2 separate regions of the Homo sapiens genome follow, and region 1 is linked to region 2. Evidence: fine-mapped expression QTL. A gene starts in region 2. The other region holds a variant in brackets. All regions are shown on one strand. Distances are between the middles of the regions. Region 1 holds the start of LINC03061 (long intergenic non-protein coding RNA 3061). Region 2 holds the start of MYO16-AS1 (MYO16 antisense RNA 1).

Evidence for each region.
Region 1: its variant is fine-mapped to the expression of MYO16-AS1 in tibial nerve (GTEx, PIP above 0.99).

What each region holds. Positions count from the first base shown.
Region 1 is chr13:109,263,753-109,266,774 of GRCh38, reverse strand. It overlaps LINC03061 (long intergenic non-protein coding RNA 3061), which reads right to left and starts at 1,288. Exons shown (of 2, transcript NR_185883.1): 1 at 1,108-1,288. The variant G/A (reference allele first, on the strand shown) is at 1,334.
Region 2 is chr13:109,166,157-109,168,656 of GRCh38, reverse strand. It overlaps MYO16-AS1 (MYO16 antisense RNA 1), which reads left to right and starts at 1,354. Exons shown (of 3, transcript NR_047700.1): 1 at 1,354-1,638; 2 at 1,947-2,021. The region is part of intron 33 of MYO16 (myosin XVI); the gene reads right to left.

The DNA of each region.
Region 1 (3,022 bases), 98 kb before region 2:
GCTATTTGGAACTACTGTAGAGTTTGTATTGGGGTCAAGAGGCATTGCAGAAGAAAATGAGACACTTAGATTTTAGGTCAGGTGAGAGTTGAAGAGGTTTTAAGTTCTTAAGAATACAGGCTAAGGGAGAAGAAGGAGGAATGGAAGGTGGAAGCTTGCCCATAGTGAAGGAGGCAAGCCCAGAGAAAAGAGTAGAGACACGGAGAAGGGGTGGGGGTTTCTTGCCCTCCAGAAAAGCAGAGAAAGGGTTGGGGCACAGAAATAAGGGATTGGGGCACAGAGATAAGAGGTCAGGGTGTGGAAATAAGGGATTGGGGGTTCTTGCCCCCTAGAAAAGTGGGAAGGGGGGTTGGGGCATGGAAATAAGGGATTGGGGCACAGAGATAAGAGGTTGGGGTGTGGAAATAAGGGATTGGGTCACAGAAATAAGAGGTCGGGGTGTGGAAATAAGGGATTGGGGGTTCTTGCCCCCTAGAAAAGCGGGACTTGCCACTAAGGGTGAAGGAGAAGGGGTTGAGGGGTACTTTCCCCTCCCCCAGAAAAGTGGGACTTGCCACTAAGGGTGAAGGAGAAGGGGTTGAGGGGTTCTTGCCCCTGCCCCAGAAAATCAGAGAAGGGGTAGAGACAAGAAGAGAAGGGGTTGGGGTACTTGCCCCTTCCCCAGAAAAGCAGGGAAGGGGTAGAGACACAGAGAGAAGGGGTTGGGGTACTTGCCCCTTCCCCAGAAAAGCAGAGAACGGGTAGAGACACAGAGAGAAGGGGTTGGGGTACTTTCCCCTTCCCCAGAAAAGCGGGACTTGCCGCTAAGGGTGAAGGACCAAGGCAGGCATCCCTGCATGGTCTGACACCCTTGAAACGTGGGTGAATAATCAGAGAGGTGTCCCTGCAATGATTAAACAGCAAGGGAAGGCTGCCTTCCCAGTCCGTGACCAGCGCTGGAGTTTTGGGTCCACAGATAAAACGTGTCTCCTTTGTCTCTACCAGAAAATGAAAGGAATTGAAACTAAGAGAAGGGAGAGATTGAAGTGTGGCGCCAAGATTGAAAGGAGAAAGAGGTTGAGGGATAGTGAGGGAGGTTGGAGAAGAGAGTAAAAAGAGGCGGCTTACTGGATTTAAAATTGGTGAGATGTTTCTTGGGCTGGTTGGTCTGAGGACCTAAGGTCGTAGGTGGATCTTTCTCATGGAGCAAAGAGCAGGAGGACGGGGGATTGATCTCCTAAGGGAGGTCCCCCGATCCGAGCCACGGCATCAAAGTTCACTCGAGTCCATGTGAAGAGACACCAAACAGGCTTTGTGTGAGCAACATGGCTGTTTATTTCACCTGGGGGCAGGC[G/A]GGCTGAGTCCGAAAAGAGAGTCAGCGAAGGGAGATGGGGTGGGGCCGTTTTATAGGATTTGGGAAGGTAATGGAAAATTACAGTCAAAGGGGGTTGTTCTCTGGTGGGCAGGGGCGGGGGTCACAAGGTGCTCAGTGGGGGAGCTGCTGAGCCAGGAGAAGGAAATTCACAGGGTTAATCACTCAGTTAAGGTGGGGCAAGAACAAATCACCATGGTGGAATGTCATCAGTTAAGGCGGGGCAGGGCCTTTTCAGTTCTTTTGTGATTCTTCAGTTACTTCAGGCCATCTGGGCGTATACGTGCAAGTCACAGGGGATGCGATGGCTTGGCTTGGGCTCAGAGGCCTGACAGTTTTTATAAGTGACCTAGTGGGGAGGCAGTATTTTACCTACATAGGGTGTGAAAAAACAGTTAAGACCAGGTGTACCATCAGCATAGAGTGCGAATCTCTGGCAGCCCCCATCCCAGCCTTTTATTATGGAGGCGGGTCCTTTGCCTGAGCTACTCCATGTTGCTTTCCTACTGTGCAGGTGCAAAAAAAAGAAAAAGAAAAAAAAAAGTGGGAGGCGGAGCCCTCATGGTGCACATGACTGGCCCCAGGTACCCCTTTCTAGTGCGGCAGCTCCCAGCTGCAAGCTTCCAGCTTCCTTATCTATGTTTGCAGCACAATCTTCCAGGCTGCTCTTTGTTAGGAGACACGTGTTTTCTTGGGCTGCTTTTTGTGAGAAAGGAAGTTCTACTGAGGAATTTTGACCTAGCTATCTGCCTAGCTATTCTCTTTTTACTTCCTCGCTCACTATGGGGTCCAGCCAAATCCAGTGGCATTGGGAATGGAAAGGAAGCAAGAATGGCAGATTATGTGGGAAGGTTTCCAATCAGCTAATTGGACTTAAGGGACAAGGGAGAAGTCAAAATAATGATGGAAATGATGGCCAAGGGAAGGGTCTTATTGTTAAAGAAAGCTCTGGGAAGGGAGATAATAGGTGTTTATAGCTATTTCCTGAGCAATCTCTGTTAGCAGGAAAATTCTCTGAAGCCATGTGAAGGGAGGCAGTTGCCAGTGAGGGGAGTTGGTGAGAAATGCCAAAGCCCCCTGGATTAGATGAAGAAATTGTATTCTCCACAAGTTATCTTTGAAAGATGACTTAGTGTACATGATTGGGAATTATATCTTGATAAGCCCCTTGGTTGGTTCTGGGAGTGATTCCTTCAAGGGGAACGCTTGGGAAATAATATATAATAGTTAAATATTCTGGTAACTTCATGGGCTTTATTCAGCTGAGTGGGCATATGAGTGTGGGGATATCAAGGGTTTAGGACAATAAGGTGATCAAAGCACTGACTCGGTGGTCTTTTAATTCCTCCATTCTGTTCTTCCCTGTTCAGTGCTTAGCTTCTCTTAATATACATTTCACAAATATATTTATTCTGAGGAACTAAATTATTAGCCTGACTAGGTGTTCAAATGTTTCCATATAGGCCTTTCTGTTCCTTTATCTGGGATTACAGGCATGAGCCACAACACACAGCTTAACCCCTGTGTGACTATCTAGTCCATAGAACTTCAGAAAGTACAACCAAATAGGGTGAAAGTTCAAGTCTTGCGTCCTCTATAATCCTATCTTGCACCCTGTCCCTCACCAAATATTTTGAAGCAAATCCCAGACATCATATCATTTCCTCCATA
Region 2 (2,500 bases):
GCCTCCTGGGTTCAAGCAATTCTCCTACCTCAGCTTTCCGAGTCGCCGGGATTAAAGGCATATACCACCAAGCCCAGCTGATTTTTGTATTTTTAGTAGAGATGGGGGTTTCACCATGTTGGCCAGGCTGGTCTCGAACTCCTGACCTCAGGTGATCTGCCTGCCTCGGCCTCCCAAAGTGCTGGGATTGCAGGCGTGAGCCACCGCGCCTGGCCTAGAGATGTAATTTTTGACGTTCAAATATATGAGCACTGTTTTTGCTGCTTTTTAATATTTGCACATTGTATCTTTTTCTTTTCTATCCCTTTACATTTACTCTTTCAGAATCCTTATGTTTTACTGTTTTCAGAAAACTTAGTTTTTAAAATATTCTGCTAATCATTTTTCATATAAGTTTACATTAAATAAGCCTTTTAAAGTTTATTATAATTAAATAAAGTTTATTTTCACATGTGTTTTCATATCTACTGTCTCAGAACTTTCTCCTTGCCCTATTTTTCCTATTTTATCCCCTTTTTGCATCTTTTGAGTTGACTTTTTATGATTTTATTTTTCTCTCTTTACTAGTTTGGATATTATCTACCCCACTAATATTCTTTCAGGGGTTACCTTTGAGGTTACAACTGGCAAGGTAGGTTTATCAGTGTATAATATTAAATATTATTTTACCCCTCCAAATTTTACTGCCTTTTTAGTTATTCTTTATTCTTTCCTTTATCTCTAAGCATTCTGAGTCTGTCAGTGTTTAATTCCTTTCATTTTTATTTTTTTTCCTAAAAATATCCTTAACTCCCTTTCATTATTACAGGAATTTTTGGGGGGCAGTTATTTTATTTGAGCATGTTAACTATGTTATTTCATTGTCTTTGGACTTCAGTTGCTACTTTTCGAAGATAGTACATATTTTTACCTCTAACTGCTTTTAAAATTAATTCTCGGTCTTTATTTTATAGGTGTTTTACTATGATACACCTAGGAAAGTTTTATGTATCCTACTTAGGCTTTGCAAAGGTTTCTGTTTCATTTTTACAAACGTTGGATTGATTATGGTGTAATTTAGAGACAGTGAGATTCACCTTTTTTAGACATACACATCTGTGCATCTGCAGACATGAGCACTCCAGGTTGTCTATAACACCACATGTCCTTCTGAACTTCATCTCCTGCCATTACGCCCAGCCTCCAGCAACCACTCAGCTGTTTTCTGTCTCCAGCTTTGCTTTTCCCCAAATGTTACATAAGCAGGATCACACTTAGTCTTTTGATTTTTTTTTTTTAACCTCAACACAATGCTTTAGCCATCCCTTTTTTTTATGATGCTCATTATAGTTGATCACTCTTATTTATTGCAGGCTTCATCCATGTGCTAGTTCAGCCTGTGAGATGCTGGTGAGCCCACCTCCAGGCACTCACGGACTCCCCACCCATTGAGTGTGGCCTGGATTTAGTGACTCAATCAAACGTGACAGAGTGCTGGGGTGTCATTTTCAAGACTGGGTTATGTGAAGACTGCAGCCTCCATCTGGGGTGCTCTCTCTTGGATTGCTTGCTCAGGGATGTGGGGAGAGCTGCTGTGCTGGGAGGCTGCCCATGTGAGTTGACTTGGATGTGAACCTTCTGTGGCCTGCCAATAGCCACGTGAGTGACCTTGAAAATGGATCAGCCTTCACTCAAGTCTCAAGATGACTGTGGTCTTGGCTGACAGCTTGATTGCTGTCTCATGGGGGACCTTAAACCAAAGGCACCCTGCTAAGCCACACACAGCTTCCTGGCCCACAGAAACTATGAAATAATAACCATTTCTTATATAAGCCTCCAAGTTTTGGGAGTAATATTTTGCACAGTGATGGATCACTAATACAAGCCAGTCATCAGTTGAAAGACACTGAATTTATTTCCAGTTTTATGTGATTATGAATAATGTCACCATATGCATTTGCATACAGGTGTTTGTGTGGACACTGCTGTCATTTCTCTTGGGAAGATACTGAGGAGTCAGATTGCTGGATCCCGTGAAGAATGTATGTTGAATGTTATAAAAATCTGCCAACTTAAATCTGTTTCCTGGTGCTCTTTCGTCAGCATTGGGAGATGCTCTAACATTTCTCACCAAGTCTTTCTTCTGCTCATGCGCTCCCTCTTCTTTCCCTAAGACTTCAATCATCCTCCTCATTGCCCTTTATATCTCTAAACCATTGTCTGGAGTTTCCATTCTTCCCTTTTGCTTCAATCTGTTTCATTCTGGGGATTTTCTGAGTTATCTTCCACTTCTCCAGTTATTTTTTATTTGTTTTGTTTTTAAACAACTATATCTAATTAAATTTAACTTTATCCTCTGTTGTACTCAATTTTATTACTGCATTTTCCAATTTCAGAATTTCCATTTGACGATTTCCTTATAGTTTCCTATTTCTGCTGAAATTCTCGTTGTTTTATTTCGTGGGGGGCTGAGTAAACATACTTATTTTAAGGCATGTGTCTTTGAATTCCAACCTTTTGA